2 separate regions of the Homo sapiens genome follow, and region 1 is linked to region 2. The links come from fine-mapping of genetic effects on gene expression. A gene starts in region 2. The other region holds a variant in brackets. All regions are shown on one strand. Distances are between the middles of the regions.

Evidence for each region.
Region 1: its variant is fine-mapped to the expression of POLL in tibial artery (GTEx, PIP above 0.99).

Annotation. Positions count from the first base shown.
Region 1 is chr10:102,520,651-102,531,616 of GRCh38, reverse strand. All of the region lies in intron 2 of SUFU (SUFU negative regulator of hedgehog signaling), which reads right to left. Among named protein-coding and RNA genes, the nearest start is that of SUFU, 22 kb to the right of the region's middle. The variant C/T (reference allele first, on the strand shown) is at 5,550.
Region 2 is chr10:101,582,013-101,592,978 of GRCh38, reverse strand. It overlaps POLL (DNA polymerase lambda), which reads left to right and starts at 4,722. Exons shown (of 9, transcript NM_001174084.2): 1 at 4,722-5,157; 2 at 5,573-5,733; 3 at 6,823-7,117; 4 at 7,501-7,663; 5 at 8,060-8,377; 6 at 9,298-9,471; 7 at 10,088-10,216. The coding sequence starts at 5,619. DPCD (deleted in primary ciliary dyskinesia homolog (mouse)) reads right to left here and starts at 4,658. Exons shown (of 6, transcript NM_015448.3): 1 at 4,579-4,658. The coding sequence starts at 4,642. RefSeq lists enhancers at 4,373-4,702, 4,803-5,082.

The sequences.
Region 1 (10,966 bases), 940 kb before region 2:
CCCTGTGCAAACCTCCATCACAGGACTCTCCTTGCTGTATTGCAGCTGCCTATCTCTCCCATCAGGACAGGATTTACCCCTTTGTACACCCCACTGACTGGCACAGGAGTGCTCAGTGAAAGCAGCCGAACAAAGGAATGGGCATCAGCTCAACAAGAAAGGTGACCTGTCCAGCAAAGCCAGTTGGGACTACAAAGGCTGGGCGATGGGAGTAATGAGGCTGAACCAGTCCTGCAATTTTGAGCTTCTGATGTTGACTCTGGGGGTGCCTGGCCCCTTGGTTAAGACTCCAAGGCTCTCCAATTTTTGATCTGTCAGTTTACACAATTAAGAAATTACTATTTTTATTTTTTATTCTTTTAGAGATAAAGTCTCACTCTGTTGCCCAGGCTGGAGTGCAGTGGCATGATCGTGACTCACTGCTGCCTCAGCCTTCCAGGCTCAAGTGATCCTCCTGCCTCAGTCTCCTGAGTAGCTGGGACTACATGTGTGCACCACTACACCTGATTACATTTTTTTTTTTTTTTTTTTTTTGGTAGAAATGGGTTATGGGGTATTGCTATGTTGCCTGGACTGGTCTCAAACTTCTGGGCTCAAGCAATCCTCCTGACTCAGCCTCCCAAAGCGCTGGGACTACAGGTGTGAACCACCATGCACAGCCAAGAAACTACAATTTTCTTGATAATTACTATTATCATTTATTACAAAACCAGGAAAACCATATATAGTCCTCTATTTGACCACTGCTTTCTTGTTGGACATAAGGTTGCTTCCAAAGCTATGCCTTGGAAAATATTTTTGTGCATATTACCTCGTTTCCTTCCCATATTTGGGTTATTTCCTTGGGATTAAGAGTCACAGAAGGCCAGACATGGTGGCTCACACCTGTAATCCCAGTACTTTGGGAGGCCGAGGCAGTAGGATTGCTTTAGCCCAGGAGTTCAAGACCAGTCTGGGCAACATAGTGAGACCCCATCTCTATAAAAAATTTAAAAATTAACCAAGCATGGTGGCACAAACTTGAAGTCCTATCTACTCAAGAGGCTGAGGCATGAGGACCACTTGAGCCCAGGAGTTTGAGGCTGTAGTGAGCTATGACTGTGCCACTGCACTCAGGCTGGGCAACAGAGTGAGTCCCTGTCTCCATTAAAAAAAAAAAAAAAAAAAAAGATTTAAAATAGTGGACAAAGGTAAAGAGAAACTAAATGCCAGCCCAAGGTTATGGGCTGAAGGACTTAGGCAGAGTGTTGAGCCTGGCTTAGAGACAGGGAAGTTGGGAAGTGAGGAAGGCAGGTGTCAGACATTCTTAGTCTCACGATCTTTGGACCCTTTGGAGGTCTCTGGGTGGACTTAGGTGGAAACTGCATGAAATTATTAACATATTACTCCAGCATCCCAATAAGATGCCAGAGAGGAGCCCAGCAAAGTGGACGAGAATACACGCTGTGGAAGCAACTGAGCCCATCAAACCCCAGCTCCACCTTTCTCTAGCTGACTGGTGGGCAAGTTAACTTCCATGTGTGCAAGGCTCCTCATCTGTAAAACTGGGAGAAGAACACTCATCTCATAGGGTGGGAGGTTTTAGTGTGACAGCACAGTGTCTGGCACCTAGCAAGTGCCCTTCCACGGCAGTTAGTGTGCAACTTTCCTTTTTCTTTTCTTTTTTTTTTTTTGAGACGGAGTCTCACTCTGTCGCTAGGCTGGAGTGCAGTGGCGCGATCTCGGCTCACTGCAACCTCTGCCTCCCGGGTTCAAGCGATTCTCCTGCCTCAGCCTCCCGAGTAGCTGGGACTATAGGTGCATGCCACCATGCCCAGCTAATTTTTGTATTTTTAGTAGAGATGGGGTTTCACCATGTTGGCCAGGATGGTCTTGATCTCTTGATCTTGTGATCTGCCCGCCTTGGCCTCCCGGCTAATATTTGTATTTTTAGTAGAGATGGGGTTTTAGTAGAGATAAAGTCTCACTCTGTTGCCCAGGCTGGAGTGCAGTGGCATGATCATGGCTCACTGCTGCCTCAGCCTTCCATATTGGCCAGGCTGGTCTCGAACTCCTGACCTCGTGATCCACCCGCCTAGGCCTCCCAAAGTGCTGCGATTACAGGCGTGAGCCACTGAGCCTGGCTGCAACTTTCCTTTTCTTAGTACTCACTCAAAGCAAACTCTGCTCATCATTTATCCTTTAAAATATCAGCAGATGCCTCCAGCTTCCCTAACTTCTGGGCTCTGGATCTTAATCAGCCCAGTCCTTCAAAAGCTGCTTTCAGCTTCACCCAATTTCCTGACCTTGGGTCCCTCCCAGAACCTTCTAACCAGACCTGAGATTTCCTTTGTGAGATGCTTTGAGTCACAGCCATTACAACAGAATTCAGTCAACAACTACTAAATAAACAACTGCAGAGATTATTTTTTATTTATAATTCAAAATTACTGATACTTTATTAGACATTTGAAAATGGTGTTGGGTGACAACACAAATACTACTGTATGTAGCAAAACTTTGTAAAAATAACTTTTGAAATATGTTTATATGATAATATTCTGATATAGCTAAGCTTTTAAGCCTCCAGTTATAAAAACAAAATAATAGAAAAAAAACCCATAAATCTCGTTATATTTAATCAATTTTATATAATCTTAAAAAAAAAAAAAAAAAGAAAGGAAAAAAGCCACATCAGCGAAGACTGCACTCTCATACTCTGACCTGGGAGTCCAATAAGGCTACAGTGCAGCAGCCACCTTTGAGTTGCAACTCTGGGTTATAGAAGCTTTCTTTGCGCTATACCCCAACCAACCAGATTCATGGAATGCATTTGCCCCACTCAAGTAGATGGTTCCTGAGACATTTTGCTGGGAGCCAAAGACCATGTTCCCACAGCATTCCTCAAGTTCAAAAACAGTGGCTCCCAGCACTGATTCGGCTGAGAATCCAGTCAAATAAACTCTTCCGGCTCCCAACACTTCAGGCAGCTTAACTCTGTCCTGGGCTTTCAGTGAGCAAAGGGTTTCCTGGAATAAGACACTGAATTTTATTTTTATTTATTTTTTGAGACAGGGTCTCACTCTGTTGCCCAAGCTAGAGTGTAGTGCCGTGATCACAGCTCACTACAGCCTTGATCTCCTGGGCTCAAGTAATCCTCCCACCTCAGCCACTGAGTAGCTGAGACTACAGACACATGCCACCATGCCTGGCTAATTTTTTTTATTATTTGTAGAAATGAGGCCTCACTATGTTGCCCAGGCTGGTCTTGAACTCCTGGGCTCAAGCAGTTCTCCTACCTCGGCCTCCCAAAGTGTTAGGATTACAGGTGTGAGCCATTGTACCAGCCAAGATACTGAATTTTAGAAATTCTAAGCCAAGGGCACCAGACCCTTTCTTGCAGGGTGGTAAAAGCTCACATTCAACCATCCCCTGCTGGACATCTGTTGCACCTTCTTCCATCTACTCCCAACCACCCCCAAACTCAAAGGTCAGCCAGCCCCCAGGGGACTCCTAAGCCAGCCTGGAGCGCTACAGGAATTCTGGGCCAAGGAAGAAGCCCAGTGCTTGGGTTTCTTGGCATCAATATGGTAGCTCCCACTCTTGGCTTTGGCTTAAAGCAACACCTTTACAAAGGTCTTCTTAAAAATAAAAAAAGACAGGCTAGGCCAATGGCGACAAGATCACAGTCTGATTTGGGAAGCGAGGTGCCCTCTGTGCCTAAGTATGCAGCTTGGGGACTTCTTACTGACCCAAGAGGCAAGGCATCTACCCAAGGGCCTTTTGTCCACCCACTCTCCTCCAGAACTCTGGGAAGCCAGCCATCCCAGAAGATCAAGAAACCTAAACAGGGCAATGGGAAGAAACAAATCTTTTTGGCATTTCAGTTCCCCAAGGGCAAGGACTGTACTTTTTGTGTGTTCTGTACATGAATACATCATGTCATGGCTGAGCAATGCTAAATGGTAATAATATTCCCACTGCCACCCAAAGAGATAATCAAGCCGAGACATTCAACAAGATAAGATGGTATTAAAAAGCAATGTGCCTCCCTCTTAGTCACTATCAAAGTAGATTCAAATATCTTCATGGCTTTGAATGTCATGATGTACTATAAATATACATATATATATATATATCTTAATGGTATTTCCTTTGAGCCACTTTTGCTACTATTTCCTTTTTGGGGAAATAAAACCGTCACTCAACTCAGTTCTCCTGTCTTCATACTAAAGCTGAGGTCCCACACTGGAATGCTTCCTAAAACCCCACTCCAGCCTCCATCATATCATCCTTTTTCTTTCCTCATCAGTCAACAAATAATTTATTGAATGTCGGCCGGGCGCGGTGGCTCACGCCTGTAATCCCAGCACTCTGGGAGGCCAAGGTGGGCGGATCACAAGGTCAGGAGATCGAGACCATCCTGGCTAACACGGTGAAACCCTGTCTCTACTAAAAATACAAAAAGTTAGCCAGGCGTGGTGGTGGGTGCCTGTGGTCCCAGCTACTTGGGAGGCTGAGGCAGGAGAATGGCATGACACCAGAAGGCGGAGCTTGCAGTGAGCTGAGATCGCACCACTGCCACTGCACTCCAGCCTGGGCGACAGAGCGAGACTCCATCTCAAAAAAAAAAAAAAAAAAAAACAATAATAATAATTATAATTTATTGAATGTCACATTCTTTACATTGTCTTCAAACTCTGCAACCTCATCTTGTTCCACTGTTCTCTCTTACCAAGCCTCAGATGCACTGGCCTTCTTTCTTTTCCTTAAACACTTCGAGGTCCGTGCTGCCCTCAGGGCCTTTATACTAGCTGTTTCACTGCCTAGGACCTTCATCAGGACTCCCAGCATTGTACAACTCCAGGGGGCAGCAATTGCACAGAATAATGTGAACGGTGGCCCTAGAGTTGTACAATGTGACAGCCCTGGCTGCCACCGGTCTTTGAGGTCTCAGTTCAAATCTTCAAGGAAGCCATCACTGATTACTGCTAACAGCATCCTCCCCACCCACCTCAACCACTACTTCTACCCATGTAAGCTCCAGAGTACCATCCCTGCTTTTTTAATTTTATTTATTTTTTTAAGACAGGGTCTCACTCTGTCACCTAGGCTGGAGTGCAGTGGCACGATCTTGGCTCACTGCAGCCTCTGCCTCCTGGGCTCAAGCGATCCTCCCACCTCAGCCTCCCAAGTAGCTGGGACTACAGGCACGCACCACCATGCCTGACTAATTTTTGTATTTTTTGTAGAGATGGGGTTTCACCACATTGCCCAGGCTGCTCTCGAACTCCTGGCTCAAGTGATCCACCCCCCCGTGGCCTCCCAAAGTGCTGGGATTAGAGGCATGAGTCACCACACTTGGCGCCCTGCTTTACTTTCATTTTTTTAAGAGACAGGGTCTCCCCATGTTGCCCAGGCTGGCGTGCAGTGGCTATTCACAGGCACAATCCCACTACTGATCAGCACAGGAGTTTTGACCTACTGGGCCAGGTCACCCCTCCTTAGGCAACCTGGTGGTCCCATGCTCCTGGGAGGTCACCATATTGATGCTGAACTTAGTGTGGACA[C/T]CTGACTGGCATAGTGCATAATAGCCCAGAACTCCTGAGCTCAAGTGATCCTCCCACCTCAGCCTCCTGAGTAGCTGGGGCCCTGCTTTATTTTCAACACAGCACTTGTACTATCTAAAACTATATAAAATTTTTCATGTTTCTCCAATAAGAATATAAGATTCATGAGAGCAGAAACCTTGCCTGCTTTGCTTTCCATGGTATCCTCAGCACTAAGAAAGCACTGGATATTTAGGTAATGTGCTCTAAAAATTTATGAAAATAGGCCAGGTGCAGTGGCTCATGCATGTAATCCTAGCACTTTGGGACACCGAGGCAGGTGGATCACCTGAGGTCAGGAGTTCAAGACCAGCCTGGCCAACATGGCAAAACCCCATCTTTACTAAAAATACAAGAAACTAGTTGGGCATGGTACTGCGTGCCTGTAATCCCAGCTACTCAGGAGACTGAGGCAGGAGAATCGCTGGAACCTAGGAGGCAGAGGTTGCAGTGAACTGAGATCGCAAGATCGCACCACTACACTCCAGCCTGGGCGACAGAGCAAGGGTCCATCTCAAACCAAACAAAAAAAGAAAATAAATTAAGTGCTTGACACATACTAAGCACTGTGCCAGTTGCTGGGATGGAGGTACTCCCTCACCTCATAAAGCAAGGTTCAGGCCAGATACGGTGGCTCATGCTTATAATCTCAGCACTTTGGGAGGCTGATGTGGGCAGATCACTTAAGGCCGGGAGTTTGAGGCCAGCCTGGCCAACATGGCAAAACCCCATCTCTACTAAAAATACAAAAATTAGCCAGGCGTGGTAGCGTGCCCTGTAATCCCAGCTACTTGGGAGGCTGAGGCAGGAGGATCACTTGAACCCAGGAGGTGGAGGTTGCAGTGAGCCGAGATTACACTACCGCACTCCAGCCTGGGCGACAGAGAGAGACTCCGTCTCAAAAATAAAAAATAAAATAAAATAAAATAAAATAAAGCAAGGTTCAGACAATTTTTCCAAAATCACATACCTCCTCCCACAGAAGGGTTCTGACTCCTATGAAAATGCCCTTGGAATGTCTCCTCTCCTATGGGAATAAGGGTCCAAACTGAAGAAGTGCTCTTGAATGAGCTAAAAGCTCGGGCTTGGTGCTGGGCCAGGAGAATTCTCCGTCTCCAGTGGTGAGAATATTTTTCCAACAGTCGGAAAAACCCCAAAGCAAGAGCTTCCTCCATTTTATTCATTTGTTCAACAAATATTTACTGATGTACTGGAGAAACATTAATGGATAAAGCACATTTCCATCCTTATCTTCAGGGAGCTTATGTTCTAGTGGGAAGGAGGGGGGACAGACAATAAACAAGACAAATAAGTAAGTAAGTAAAATAAGCTAGATGGTAATTTAAAAAAAAATTTCTTAAAGCATAATAGACATCGCAGAAGTGATAAGTGTTTTAAAGAAGAAATAGGCTGGGCACGGTGGCTCACGCCTGTAATCCCAGAACTTTGGGAGGCTGAGGCAGGCAGATCACTTGAGGAGTTTGAGACCAGCCTGGCCAACATGGTGAAACCCCGTCTCTACAAAAAATATAAAAATTAGCCAGGTGTGGTGGCACGTGCCTGTAGTCCCAGCTACTTGGGAGGGTGAGGCAGGAGAATCGCTTGATCCCAGGAGGCGGAGGTTACAGTGAGCCGAGATTGCACCACTGCACTCCAGCCTGGGCAACAGAGCTAGACTTCATCTCAAAAAAAAAAAAAAGAAAAGAAAAGAAAAAGAAAAATTAGGCTGGGTGCGGTGGCTCATGTCTGTAATCTCAGCACTTTAGGAGGCAAGACAGAAGGATCGCTTGAGTCCAGGAGTCCGAGACCAGCCTGGGTAACATAGTGAGACCCTGACTATACAAATATATATAACTTTTTAAAAAGAAGAATTAGGCAGGAAAGGGGGATACTGCTTTGTGGGAGGAGGGTGCAGGATTTCCTTTTTAAATAAGGAGGTCAGGGAAGGCCTAACTGAGAGAAGTTATTTGCGAAAGGGTCTAAGGAAGTGAGGTAAGGTATGAAGCTATCTGCAGGCAGAACTTTGCAGGCATAGGGAGAGTAAGTGCAAAGGCCCTGAGGTAGAAGAATGCCTGGCACTTCAGAGGAAAAGCAAGGGGGGCAGAATAGGAAGAGCAGAGCAGTCAGAGAGAAGGCCGATTGAAGTAGAGTACAAAGGACCTTAAAGGTGATGGCCTTTGGCCTTTACTCAAGTGAGACATGAAGCCACTGGATGGTTCTGAGCATGATTCATGAGATGAGTGTCCACTGGCCCTGGCTAAAGAAGGTCTAACTCCGAAGGCTCCCTGCTCAGCGACCATCTTCCTTCTGGGCCTTTTATCTACACAAAACCACTGGTTACAGGAATGAGAAATTGGCAGCTTGGCTCCAGGAGGGTGGGAATTCAGCATGTCTGCAACCTGATATATGGGAAAAGCTAGAACAGGAAGACGAGAGGGTTAGGGCAAGCCATGGTGTTGCCTGTAGGTTTTCACTACATTTTTCCTCTAACCAACCAAGCTTTGTCAGAAGCCTTGAAGAGTCAAATCCATCACAGGCCAAAAGCACAGCCAGCCAGCTCGACCCCCCTGGGACTGGTAGCCTGGGCCAAGTCCCATTCTCTAGCAGTTACTCTTCCCTACAGCCATGGCCGTGGGCAGCCTGACATCATGTTGAAAGGCCTGAGGTCAGAGTAAGAGAAACTGGTGGTCGGAGGCAGGGCTCCAAGAGGCCCCAGGTATCACATGAGGGTTAGTACTAGAAAAACAAGACATCTCTTTGATTGGCCTTCCTGTGGCTAAGCTGATTCTATGACCAGGGACTCCAAGAGACTGAGTAACATAGGAGTAGGAAGGAAAGGGATCTGTGAGGGCCACTATCTTTTACTAACATGCTAGGGGCCTGGAGTCCAGTGAACCATACCTCTCTGAGAAGCTGCTGTGAAGCTATGATCTCGCTGACAAATGGACAACTGTCTCAGCCTCAAACTCAGGCCTGGTCACATCATTTCTGAGCCTCAGGACTCCTGCTTGCCAAGAGCCCTCCACTAGGCCTCAAGCCATGGACTGCTGAAGAGGAGACAAAGAGGCACCAGGTGATAACCTAAGGCTGTGAAACTGTATCAGGCCCACCTCCCCACAATGTCTTCTAGCTCAAGGACCCTTCAGCCCAATGAGGACCAGGACCAGGTTTATGTTGCTTGTTACTACAAGCCTCATGCCCAGAACTGTGTCCCAACGATGACAATCTACGGAGCAGATTAACGTCTGGCCTTCCAAAGAAGAGAGGACAGCGATCAACGCTGGATGGGAACTAAGTGTGTCTGCTTACCCACAACCCAGTGCTAGGAAAGGACAGTGGGCCACTCCTTCTCTAGATCTCTAGATCTAGTCCTGCTGCAAACATACAGTAGTATTAAGTTATCTGACTTCCTGTGTGACAGAAGCCCTAAATGGTAGCCCATTTGTTTCAGGCAATTACCTGAAAAGGAGCTCTAGGCATTTGTGCTTATGCCTGTGAACCTTCTGTGTCCCTCGAGTACAAGGACCCTGGGGCACTCTGTAAGCCAATCTCAGTCTTCTGTACCACGCACCCAAGAAAGAGAGAAAGGAGGAGGCGTGTGGTATTTATTCCAGGTGACACTGATCACCAAATCTTGACTGTTCTAAGGGGAAAATAACAATAAAAGCAACAACTGGAAGAACACAACCCCTCAGGACAGCTACCACCATTTGTGATAGTAAAGCTGTGATCTGAGAAGTAGGCAAACAGCACAGTTCATACATATACTACCTAAACCACTCTTCACTGCTGTGAGACGTCAAGGAGGAAAAATGGGAATATCGTTAATGTAACATGGCAGTGGGTAAGAGCTATCTTCCCAAGCAAATGTGCTGTTTTCAGAATCTAGAAACCCTAGCAACAGTGGGCAAGCTGAATTCAGACAACAGCGTTAAGCAGGTAGCAGGGAAGCCTCAGAAGATGTTAAGTCCTCACTAAGAAGATGAGATGCACGCAAAGCAAAAGCCCTGTGCACAACTGGGACAGCGTCACTCCCAGTTATTTATAGAATCATTTACAGAAATCATCATAAGAACAGACATAGAATTGTAAACAAAAGGTGATAGGATTATCAGTAATTGTTTTCTCCCATTTCTAATTCCCAACATTTTTAGTAAAATGGTTCAACTGTTTTTATAAGTGAAAAAAAGCAAAATTACAACTAAGACATTGGATAACAATAACGAATTTAACAGCAAAAGGCCAGGCCAGGAAAGTTTTAGACTTTGTCTTCTTGATGCTGGTTCAACTATGAGAGTTTGAGATCTGGTTGGGGCTTCAAAGGAGCATGGTATATGCATTTCTCATCAAAGGCAAGGTTAAGCCCAATAGGGTATGGAATGGACAAATCTGCATACCAGTCTCTCTACAGTCTGTACTGGAGGGCAGAATCAATCTCAAACCTTAGGATTGAGGTTGCAAATCTCAGTAGCAGCTACACTTTATGGAAGACACCATCATTGGAGAATATAAGGTGGAGAACTCATGAGCCAGCCCCAGTTAAAACCAACAGCAACTTAGGAATTCAGAGGTAGGCCCAGCACCTACTCAGCGGATCTAACTCATTTAACGGCTTGAGAAGTGACCAAAAGAAAAATATGCCAGAAAGCATAATTAGCCCCATGGTCTGAACCCATGATGTGAGAAAAAGGTATGTATGGGCAGAGGTAGAATGGGGAGTGGCTGGAGGTTAGGAAGAAAAACAAAGATATGTCACCAAAGAAGATATACAGATGACAGACAAGCATATGAAAAGACGCTCAACAGCATATGTCATGAGAGAACTGCAAATTAAAACAATTAGATACCACTCCACACCTATTGGAATGGCTAAAATCCAAAAAACAGACAATACCAAATGCTGGTGAGGACATGAAACAATAGGAACTCTCATTCATTGCTAGTGGGAATGAAAAATGGTATAGCCACTATGGAAAATGGTTTGGCAGCTTCTCATAAAGCTAAACATAGTCTTAACATACGATCTAGCATTACATTCCTAGGGATTTACCCAGATGAGTTGAAAACGTATGTCCACACAAAAACCTGTATACAAATGTTTATAGAAGCTTAATTAAAAATCGCCAAAAAATACTGGAAGCAATCAAGATATTTTTCAAAAGGTGAAAGAATAAACTGTGGTACATAACAAACAATGGAATAGTATCAAGTGATAAAAAGAAAGGAGCTATCAAGTCACCAAAAGGCACGGCGGAATCTTAACTGTATATTACTCAGTGAAAGAAGCTAGTCTGCAAAAGTTACATACTATTTGATTCCAACTCTATGACCTTTTGGAAAAGGCAAAAACTACAGAGATAGTAAAAAAAACCAAACAG
Region 2 (10,966 bases):
GCAGTGGTGTGATCTCGGCTCACTGCAACCTCTGCCTCCCGGGTTTAAGCAATTCTCCTGCCTCAGCCTCCTGAGTAGCTGGGACTACAGGTGAATGCTACCACACCCAGCTAATTTTTGTATTTTTAGTAGACACAGGGCTTCACCATTTTGGCTAGGATGGTTTCAATCTCCTGAGCTCGTGATCTGCCCATCTCAGCCTCCCAAAGGGCTGGGATTACAGGCATGAGCCACCACGCCCGGCCAACTGAGGCTTTTTTTTAGAGTGTCTTGCTCTGTTGCCAAGGCTGGAGTGCAGTGGTGTGATCTCGGCTCACTGCAACCTCTGCCTCCTGGGCTCAAGTGATCCTCCACCTCAGACTCCCGAGTAGCTGGGACCATGGTTGCACACCACCATGCCCAGCTAATTTTTAAATTTCTTTGTAGAGATGGGGTCTTACTATGTTACCCAGACTGATCTCAAACTCCTGAGCTCAAGTGATCCTCCTGCCTTGGCCTCTCAAAGTGTTGAGAATACAGGTGTGAGCCACCACGCCTGGCCCTTAACTTTGTTTAAAGTGGGTTTTCCCAAACAAGTGTTTTTGTTTTTTAAGAGTGTCTGGCTATGTTCCCTAGGCTGGAGTGCAGTGGCTATTCACAGGCATGATTATAGCACACTACAGCCTCAAACTTCTGGCCTCAAGTGAGCTTCCTGCCTCAGTTTCCCCAGTAGCTGGGATTACAGGTACCCAACACAGGTGTTTAGTTTTTATAAAGCCAACTATATATTTTCTTTCTTTGTGGTTACTGCCTTAGAAGTTGCACTCAGAGCATCTTCCCTTACCCAATGATTATTCGATACTTATCTATACTTTGTTTTAATAGTATATTTATTCTAGAAATAAATGTATATATAAATTATTAAGTATATTAGTATATTTTTGTAAAAGAAAAATAACTGTGAGTGTATGCATGAAATAATATAGAAGTTTATGTATAAAAATATAAATTATGGGCTGGGCGAGGCGGCTCACGCCTGTAATCTCAGCCCTTTGGGAAGCCGATGCAGGCGGATCACCTAAGGTCTGGAGTTTGAGACCAGCCTGGTTAACATGGTGAAACCCTGTCTCTACTAAAAATTAAAAAAAAAATTAGCCGGGCTTGGTGGCGGGCGCCTATAATCCCAGCTACTCAGGAGACTGAGATAGGAGAATCGCTTGAACCCAGCAGGCAAAGGTTGCAGTGCGCCGAGATTGCGCCATTGCACTCCAGTTTGGGCAACAAGAGTGAAACTTGTCTCAAAAAAAAAAGTAAATTATGATTATCTGGGTGGTAATATTATATTTGACTTCTTTATTTTTCATATTTCCACAATGAATGTAATTATTTCTTAAAAAAACAAAAGTAAAATGGAGTCTCATTATCCAGCCCAAGATATCAATAGCCATGATTCTTGGTGGAAGGGAGTAACCTCCCCCCTACTCCCCACACCCCTCCTACACACCCAGGGGTAAATCTGCAGGTTTGACAAGGCTTAACCACATATGCAATACTGAGTTGTTTTTCAGTCTGGGGATAGGGTGGAATCTTAACAATATCATTTTGTGATGCTACTAACAAAAGAACTTAACAAAATCCTGGCTGATAAAATATTTGTTTAAAAACTTCTGTGACCAAAAACAGTGAAAGCAGGGACTCAAGTGGATATTTGTATACTCATGTTCAGAGCAGCATTATCCACAATACCCAAAAGGTGGAAGCAACCCAGGTGTCCATCAACAGATGAATAAATAAACAGAATGCAGTGTAGACATACAATGGATATCACTCAGCCTTAAAAAGGAGCAAAATTTTGACACATGCTACAATATCCATACCTCTGTGCCCACCTCTTCCAGGCACAGCCCTTGGTCCTTGCTCTATCTCCCCTAAAAACACAGGGAACATTTAGAGGTTTACTTTATGAACGATATTACAGCTGGAAAGGATCCAAACAAGTAAAGGGGCCAACTAGAGATCCTGTGGTGAATTAATGGCACAGCTGGAAGTATCCAACTGTGGCAACATGGATGAACCTTGAAGCGTTACACTAAGTGAAATACACCAGTTACAGAAAGACAAATATTGTATGATTCCACTTAGACGAGGTTCCTAGAGCAGTCAAATTCATAGACAGAAAGTAGAATGGTGGTTGCCAGGGGATGGGAGGAGGAGGGAATGAGGAGTTGGCATTTGGTGGGTACAGAATTTCACTTGAGCTGAGTGTAGTGGCACATGCCTGTAGTCCCAGCTATTCAAGAGGCTGAGGTGGGAGGACTACATGAGCCTAGGAGTTCAAGGCTGCAGTGAGCTATGATCGTACCCCACAGCCTGGGTGACAGAGCAAGACCCTGTCTCTAAAAAAAAAAAAAAAAAAAGAATTTCCGTTGAGAAAGATTAAAAAGTTCTGAAGATGGTGGTGATAGTTGCACAACAATGTGAATGTACTTAATGCCACAGAACTGTACACTTAAAAATGATTAAAATGCTAAATTCTGTTATGTATTTATTACCACAATAAAAACAAAAACCACTGTCCTATGAGAAAATGTCCTAAATCTTTAGCAAGGCATAAGAGATCTATCACAATATGTCCCAACTTATCTGTCATCTCTCTTCATTTTCCACAACTTCCCCTCATTGCTCCTTGAGAAAAGGGACCTTTTTATTCTCGCTTCCATCCTGGCACCTAGAATAGTACCTGACATAGTTATAGGTGGTTTGTTCTGACTGAGTGACTGCTTTAACATTACTAAACATTTTGTTATTCCTCTAGTAATCAGGCACGTACCTTCACACCTTCACATAGGGTCCTTATATGTGAGTTGTTCTTTGAATAGCTATCCCCTCTTCTTCACTCAGCAAACGCCTATTAATTCTTTTTTTTTTTTTTTTTTCCAGTTTTTTTGAGACAGGGTCTCGCTCTGTCGCCCAAGCTGGAGTGCACTGGCATGATCTCGGCTCACTGCTGCGTCTACCTCGCTGGCTCAAGCGATCCTCTGGCCTCAGCCACCACAAGTAGCTGGGACTACAGGCATGTGCCATGATGCACGGCTTATTTATTTTTTTGTCTGAGACACAGTCTCACTCACTCTGTCACCCAGGCTGGAATGCAGTGGTGTGATCTCAGTTCACTGCAACCTCCATCTCCCGGGTTCAAGCGATTCTCCTGCCTCAGCCTCCAGAGTAGCTGGAATTACGGGTGCGCACCACCACACCTGGCTAATTTTTTTGTATTTTTAGTAGCGATGGGGTGGTTTCATCATGTTGGCTAGGCTGGTCTCGAACTCCTGGCCTCAAGGGATCCGCCCACTCGGCCTCCCAACATGCTGGGATTACAGGCGTGAACCACCACATCCGGCCATAATTTCCGTATTTTTTGTAGAGATGAGGTTTGGCCATGTTGCCCAAGCTGGTCTCGAACTCCTGAGCTCAAATGATCCGCCCACTTTGGCCTCCCAGAGTGCTGGAATTACGGGCGTGAGCCACTGTGCCTGACCTTATTAATTCTTTAGGACCCAGAAACATCATCACTTCTGTTGGGTCTTCCTCCAAAGAGATGTCACTTACACCTTCACTCTTTCCTACCATTTTATACAAGACTACAACCTCTATTTAACGCTTCTTATTATTTAAGTACATGTTTTTCCCAACCACTCTGAGTCCTGGGACAACATATCTTTTTCTTTCTGTTCTAGTTTAGAGCTTGGCACATAGTAAAAGTCTTCCTAAATGTTGCACGAACGAGTAAATGATTTTAATTTCCACAAACTCCAGGCTTCCCTGATTGGCCCCTGCCTGTGAACATGAGTCACCAGTTGTTATCTTGAAAGCCTCAGGAACTTCAGACGCAATTCATCCTGGCTACCCAGTGGGTCCAGAAAGGACCCAAGTGCACAAAGGGGCCGGCATCGGCCAATCCTAGGGTGGGGAAAAGTTAGGTATCCATGCCCCTGTGCCCACTTCTTCCAGGCACAGCCCTTGGTTCTTGCTCTAGCTCCCCTAAAGACACAGAAAATATTTAGAAGTTCACTTAACAAAAATATTACAGCTGGAAAGGACCTCAGAGATAACAATGGTAGTCCATCCACTTCATTTTATAGATGAGGAAAGTGAGGCCCAAACAAGTAAAGGAGCCGACTGAAGCGCCCGTGGTGAATTAATGGCACAGTCGGAACTAGAGCCCAGGCCTCTCTCCTCTCTAAAGTCTAAAACATTCTTGGATTTCAGTTTCCTCTTCTGTAAAACGGGGTGAAAATTAGCCTCTCAGGACAGTGGTGAGGAGCAAATGAGATAATGAATGTAAAAGAAATTACTATATTAGCAACAGAAATCAGAGCGGAGCGAGATGGTGTAGAGGAATCTAAGGGGTGTCCGGAGACATGTGTTCCAGTCATGTCATCTCTGTGAACCTCAGTCTCCTCATCTGCAAATGCAGGACCTGGCCCGGCTGACCGCCGAGACCCTTCCAGCTCTGCCGACCCAGGCCCTGAGGCCCTTCCCGGAGGGCCGGACCCTGAGGGAAAAAAACGAAGGAGCCCGTGGGGACCCTCGAGTTACCGTCCTGCAGCAGCGCAGTCTTCTGGGCTGTCCGCAGACTCTCCAACCAGCCCGTCACCGCCATCTTTCCCCTGCTAAGCAGCACGCCCAGCCGCTGCCATGGCAACCGTTCCAGAGGGTCACTTCCGGCTGACTCGGAAGCTATTCTGGCCATTTGCCCTCCTTCCCCCCTTCGTCCGCTCTCATTGGCTCTGCTGGTAAGTGGTCTATTCCTGCCCACCCCCGGGTGACTAGCTTGGCCAGTAGTCGACCCCACCCGGGGACCGACTCTGGGGGTTGGAGAGACTCTTGGGGCCGGGGTCGGGCACTCCAGCTTTCTTCTAGCCCCGAGCTGGGATTCCCTGGCCTGCGCCAGCTGCGTACACGGCGAGTACACCGCACCTGCCCGGGACTTCACCCGCAGCTGCGAGACTCCTCCATTCCCGGAGGGCTCCCCACACCTGCTGCGGCCGTGCCCCATCTCCCCGCAGCTGCGGCGCTGAGCACCCCCATGTCGAGAGGCTGAGACCAGGACAGGTGCAGGGCGTTCCCACTCACCCCCGAAAGTCCTCCTCCTTCCTCTGCGAGTCTGTGTTGGAGGTAGAGAAATAGTATGTGGGGTTTATGTGCAGGTCCTCCCCAGGCTCCGCTCCATCCCCTAAAGCTCCATTTCCTAGCCCAGCATCCCATTTGGTAAAGCCCTTCGAAGTGGGCCGCAGCAGGGCTGTGCTGAATCTTTAGCGCAACCCCTCTGAGGAATGGTGTCGTTTCCTACTCCTCAAAAGTACCCCCGATGGCACCAGCCTTCCCCTCATTTCCCGTAATACTCCAACTTCGAAAGGCTGGGGAGTGTGAAGCTAGGCTAAACCACTGAAGTTTAACCGGGTTTGAAGAGACCCCCTCCCCCGACCCGCTTCCCCAAACTGGGCTGCTACCCCCAAAGCCTGGTCAGGAAAGACCCTACCTCCATAGGCAAAGGGGTTGGAGGGCCTCAATTCTGGATTTCCACGTGCAGCAGCCCTGACCAACGCTCCAATAGGCCGGGATCCAGCCATACTTCAATGGATCCCAGGGGTATCTTGAAGGCATTTCCCAAGCGGCAGAAAATTCATGCTGATGCATCATCAAAAGTACTTGCAAAGATTCCTAGGAGGGAAGAGGGAGAAGAAGCAGAAGGTGAGCTGACCCAGTCTCAGAACCCTCGTGTGCTTGAACCCACAGCCTTCATGTGCTTCAGCCCTACGTTGTTTATGTCCAGAATCAGATATTGGAGCTGACTCTGCCTGTCCAGGGCCTGCAGGTCTGTTTGTATCTACCTTGTGCTAAGCTTGGTCCTGGGTCTTGGACAGGCTATTTGCTGTGTTACCTTCTTTTCTACCCGAAGACCTCTATCCATCAGAAAAGACTCCCTGGGCCCTCAGGGAATGACCAGTATAATTTTTGCCCTGAGGACTGGGACAGAAACCCCCCTCCATTACCCAGGCTTGTTGTTAGTTGTTTTGCAGCCAAATTGGCAAATAAATGGCAGAGGCTTTGGAGGCAGGGTTGTCGGGTCTGTCAGACTGTAAGGGCAAGAAACGCGCTTTGTTGAAAGAATAAATGATAAAGGATTCAAAGTATGGAGAGAGGCTGGGCGCGGTGGCTCTTGCCTGTAATCTCAGCACTTTGGGAGGCCGAGGCAGGCAGATCACCTGTGCTCAGGAGTTCGAGACCAGCTTGGGCAACATGGCGAAACCCTGTCTCTACTAAAAATACAAAAAATTAGCCAGGCATGGTGGCACACGCCGGTAATCCCAGCTACTCGGGAGGCTGAGGCATGAGAATCGCTTGAACTCGGGAGATGGAGGTTGCAGTGAGCCAAGACGATGCCACTGTACTCCAGCCTGGGCGACAGAGTGAGACTGTCTCCAAACAAAAACAAAACAAAAGAAAACAAAACAAACAAACAAAAAACAAAGTAAGAAGGGAGGAGGCATTCATTAAACAAATATTTACAGGTTACTTACAATGTGCCAGACACTTCTAGATTGCACCAAGGAACAGGACGTATGAAAATCCTTGTCCCTTACATTCAAGTGCTGGCCTGTGAGAAAATTTGCTATATGTAGAAGGAAAGCTGTCTGGATGGAAGGGAAATGCTTATTTTCAGGGTAGGGGACTGTGAACACGTCATTCAGATCATGTTAGAAGTTATGTCGTGGCCAGGGGGTGGCAGATAAAAATTAAAAAGTTACAACAGTAGTCATCTGGATGTTCCTTCCACAGAGTGGCTGAGCTCCCTTCGGGCCCATGTTGTGCGCACTGGCATTGGACGAGCCCGGGCAGAACTCTTTGAGAAGCAGATTGTTCAGCATGGCGGCCAGCTATGCCCTGCCCAGGGCCCAGGTGTCACTCACATTGTGGTGGATGAAGGCATGGACTATGAGCGAGCCCTCCGCCTTCTCAGACTACCCCAGCTGCCCCCGGGTGCTCAGCTGGTGAAGTCAGCCTGGCTGAGCTTGTGCCTTCAGGAGAGGAGGCTGGTGGATGTAGCTGGATTCAGCATCTTCATCCCCAGTAGGTGGGCTGATCCCAGTCTTTTTTTCAAATGTTTTCTAGTAGCATCTTGAGCTCTTTTCTTGAATTATTAAAAATAACTATCATTAATTAAAAAATTAGCCAGGCATGGTGGGGTGTGCCTGTAGTCCCAGCTATAAGAGGTTTAGGTGGGAGGATTGATTGAGCCAGGGAGGTTAAGGCTGCAGTGAGCCTTGATCGTACCACTGTACTCCAGCCTGGGTGACAGAGCAAGACCCTGTCTCAAGAGAAACTCCAAAAACCTCAAAAAACTCGTTTTCTTAATTGGACACACTGGGAAACCAAGTATTTCAGAGTACAGAAGGACTGGGGACAGATACAGGGTGAGACCTTTGGTGTCTTAACCTCCCATCACCATCCCCACAGGTACTTGGACCATCCACAGCCCAGCAAGGCAGAGCAGGATGCTTCTATTCCTCCTGGCACCCATGAGGCCCTGCTTCAGACAGCCCTTTCTCCTCCTCCTCCTCCCACCAGGCCTGTGTCTCCTCCCCAAAAGGCAAAAGAGGCACCAAACACCCAAGCCCAGGTCAGGAGCCTCCCATCCCTCAGAACTCCCTTCCCCTAGGAAGCAGATCACAGAAATGGGGTGGGCCTGGTGGCTGTTCAGAAAGTCCCAGGCCCCTGAGAGAGGAGGGCTCTATTGTGAAGCCATTTAGCTCTTCCCAACACTCATCACTGCTGCATTTATCTAGGCCATATCTAACACATACCACTGGGGATCCTAGGGCTAGGCACTGCGTGGAGCCAAAGGGAACGTGGCCTCACACCCAAGGAGATCCAAGTCTGATGCAGAAGGCCCCGCCTCATTCTTAGGTCTGACTAGAAGACCCTCCCCCCGCACAAAGAAGATGACCCCCACCTTTAAGGATCCCTTCTCTTGGAGAACAAGAATTTATTGTTTTCTTTTCTTCTCTATCCCAAGCCCATCTCTGATGATGAAGCCAGTGATGGGGAAGAAACCCAGGTTAGTGCAGCTGATCTGGAAGCCCTCATCAGTGGCCACTACCCCACCTCCCTTGAGGGAGATTGTGAGCCTAGCCCAGCCCCTGCTGTCCTGGATAAGTGGGTCTGTGCACAGCCCTCAAGCCAGAAGGCGACCAATCACAACCTCCATATCACAGAGAAGCTGGAAGTTCTGGCCAAAGCCTACAGTGTTCAGGGAGACAAGTGGAGGGCCCTGGGCTATGCCAAGGCCATCAATGCCCTCAAGAGCTTCCATAAGCCTGTCACCTCGTACCAGGTACCCAGGGGCTAGAGTGGGAGGAGGGGTCTTTACTGGCCAGTGGTTAGTAACCCCAGTGGGGTTCAGGTACAGTGGTGAAGATTTTATGGGGTCTAGGACTTGCACAAAAGAAAAAAAAGGAAAATTGATGAAAGCAGATTGGCAAAATCTTGATAGTTGTTGAAGCTGGGAGATGTACGATACTTGGGGGTTATATGGATCTCTCTACTTTTGAATTTTTTAACATAATTAAAAGTTTTTTATTTTTAATTTTGTTTATTTATTTATTTATTCATTTATTTAGCAGAGATGGTGTTTTGCCGTGTTACCCAGGCTGGTCTTGAACTCCTGGGCTCAAGCAATCTACCCTCGGCTCAGCCCTGCAAAGTGCTGGGATTACAGCCATGAGCCCTTGTGTCCCGCCTAAAAAGTTGTTTAAAAGAAGTTTGGACTCTGAAGCCTAACAGACCAGGGTTTGAACTCTGGTTCCTGTCATTCACTAACTGTGTGACTCCAGACAAGTTACTTAAACTCTCAAAGCATCAGTTTTCTCATTAGTAAAAAGGGGCTACTATTAAATGAAATGGTCCCTGTAGCACAGGACCTGACATAGAGTAAGCCCTCAGTAAATGTTAGCTCTTGCTGTTGGAATGATGATGATGGTGGTGGTGGTGGTGGTGACTAATATCATCATTATTTTCTACTTCTTACTGCTGGTCTCCATCCTTCTGGGAACCAAAAGACAAATTACCCAGCCCTCATTCTATCCAAAATTCTCATCTTCAACTACACCCAAGCTTTACACAGCCACACAGTTGCCAAGCAGCCAGGCTGGCTTTTATGTCAGCATCTGCTAGAGGAGTCAGCTTCCTTTCCACTGGCTCTACCTCTTCCATCTCCTCACTCTTCTTTCTTGCCTCTGCCTCCTCCTCCTCTAGGAGGCCTGCAGTATCCCTGGGATTGGGAAGCGGATGGCTGAGAAAATCATAGAGATCCTGGAGAGCGGGCATTTGCGGAAGCTGGACCATATCAGTGAGAGCGTGCCTGTCTTGGAGCTCTTCTCCAACATCTGGGGAGCTGGGACCAAGACTGCCCAGATGTGGTACCAACAGGTCACACCCTGGCTCAGCCCCTACTTCAGTTTTGCTGTGTCTCAGAGTTCCTGCCCCAGATGTGTGCTGTGCTCTGCCCCAGATCCCTATGCTGTGCTCTGATGGGAATGCACCCACAGTATAGGGAGACCATTTTTCAAGCGGACCAGGACTCATATAGACCCCTCAGCTCCCAGAACAGCCTTGTTGCTTGGTATCCTTAAGAAGGAGTAGACAGGGACAAGAAGTATGTTTCTCAGTCTCCCCAGACCAGCAAGGGCCTTCCTGAGGAGGCCAGGCCTTGACACTGCGTGTCTAGAGCAGTGGTTCCCAATCCTGGCTCTGCCCACAATCACCAGGGCAGCTTGGTAAGGATGAAGATGACAAGGTCCATCCTCAGACTGATGGAATCATGAACGAGCATCTTAGGATAGTGGCAGGGCTGGATGATGGCATGTTTCCCATGCTCCCTGCCTTTCCCAAGTCCTGCTGAGTACAGACCCAACTGCCCCTAGGTTGGTCCTGCCTCTAGCCTTCCCTAGAGTCTGGGGCGATGGAAGCCTTGTGTGTGTGCTCACTCATGCCTCTTCATTGGTCCTGGATCCTTACAGCTTCCCATCTGGCTGCTTTTTTCCAGGGCTTCCGAAGTCTGGAAGACATCCGCAGCCAGGCCTCCCTGACAACCCAGCAGGCCATCGGCCTGAAGCATTACAGTGACTTCCTGGAACGTATGCCCAGGGAGGAGGCTACAGAGATTGAGCAGACAGTAAGCAGGTGTCCCAGAGCAGTGAGGACAGCCAGGTCCTGCTGTAAGGTCTTGGGTCAAAGCCAAGAACCCCCAACTCCTCAGCTGGGGAGGACAGCAGGCAGAGGAAACTGTGGATCACCAGAGGTTGAGCACAGAGCAAGTTAAGACTGAAGCTCCAGGCCCAGAGGTGGGGGTGGGGAGCTTTGGGAGGAAAGAGCTGTAACACCAGCCCTCTAGATTCTGGTTCTCAGTAGTCAGGCCTATTAGGATTGGATTCAATTCTAGACTGATTGGTGTTAGGATTGGGTTAATGTTAGGGTTAGATTACAGGTGAATTATATCTGTACTGAGGTTAGGGTGGGTCAGGGCAGAGGGTTTTAATATTTTATTTTATCTTTTTTTTTTATTTCACCAACTTCTTTGAGAACCTGATGAAAACTGTGGACTGTTTTCTCCCCAAAATGCACAAATGTGCAAAGGTTTATGTCTTTTTCCAGATGTATGGACCTTCTAAAGCCCACGCAAGGCTGGCTCAGGATTTGGGGTAGAGTTGGTGTAAAAGCACAGTGTCAGTAGGATTTGGTTTGGGGCTGGAAGAAAGCTCCATCAAGATGGAGTTAAGACCAGGCACAGTGGCTTATGCCTTTAATCCCAGCACATTGGGAGAACAGGGTGGACAGATCATCTGAGCTCAGGAGCTCGAGACCAGCCTGGCCAACGTGGTGAAACCCTGTCTCTATAAAACATACAAAAATTTCCAGCCTGGCA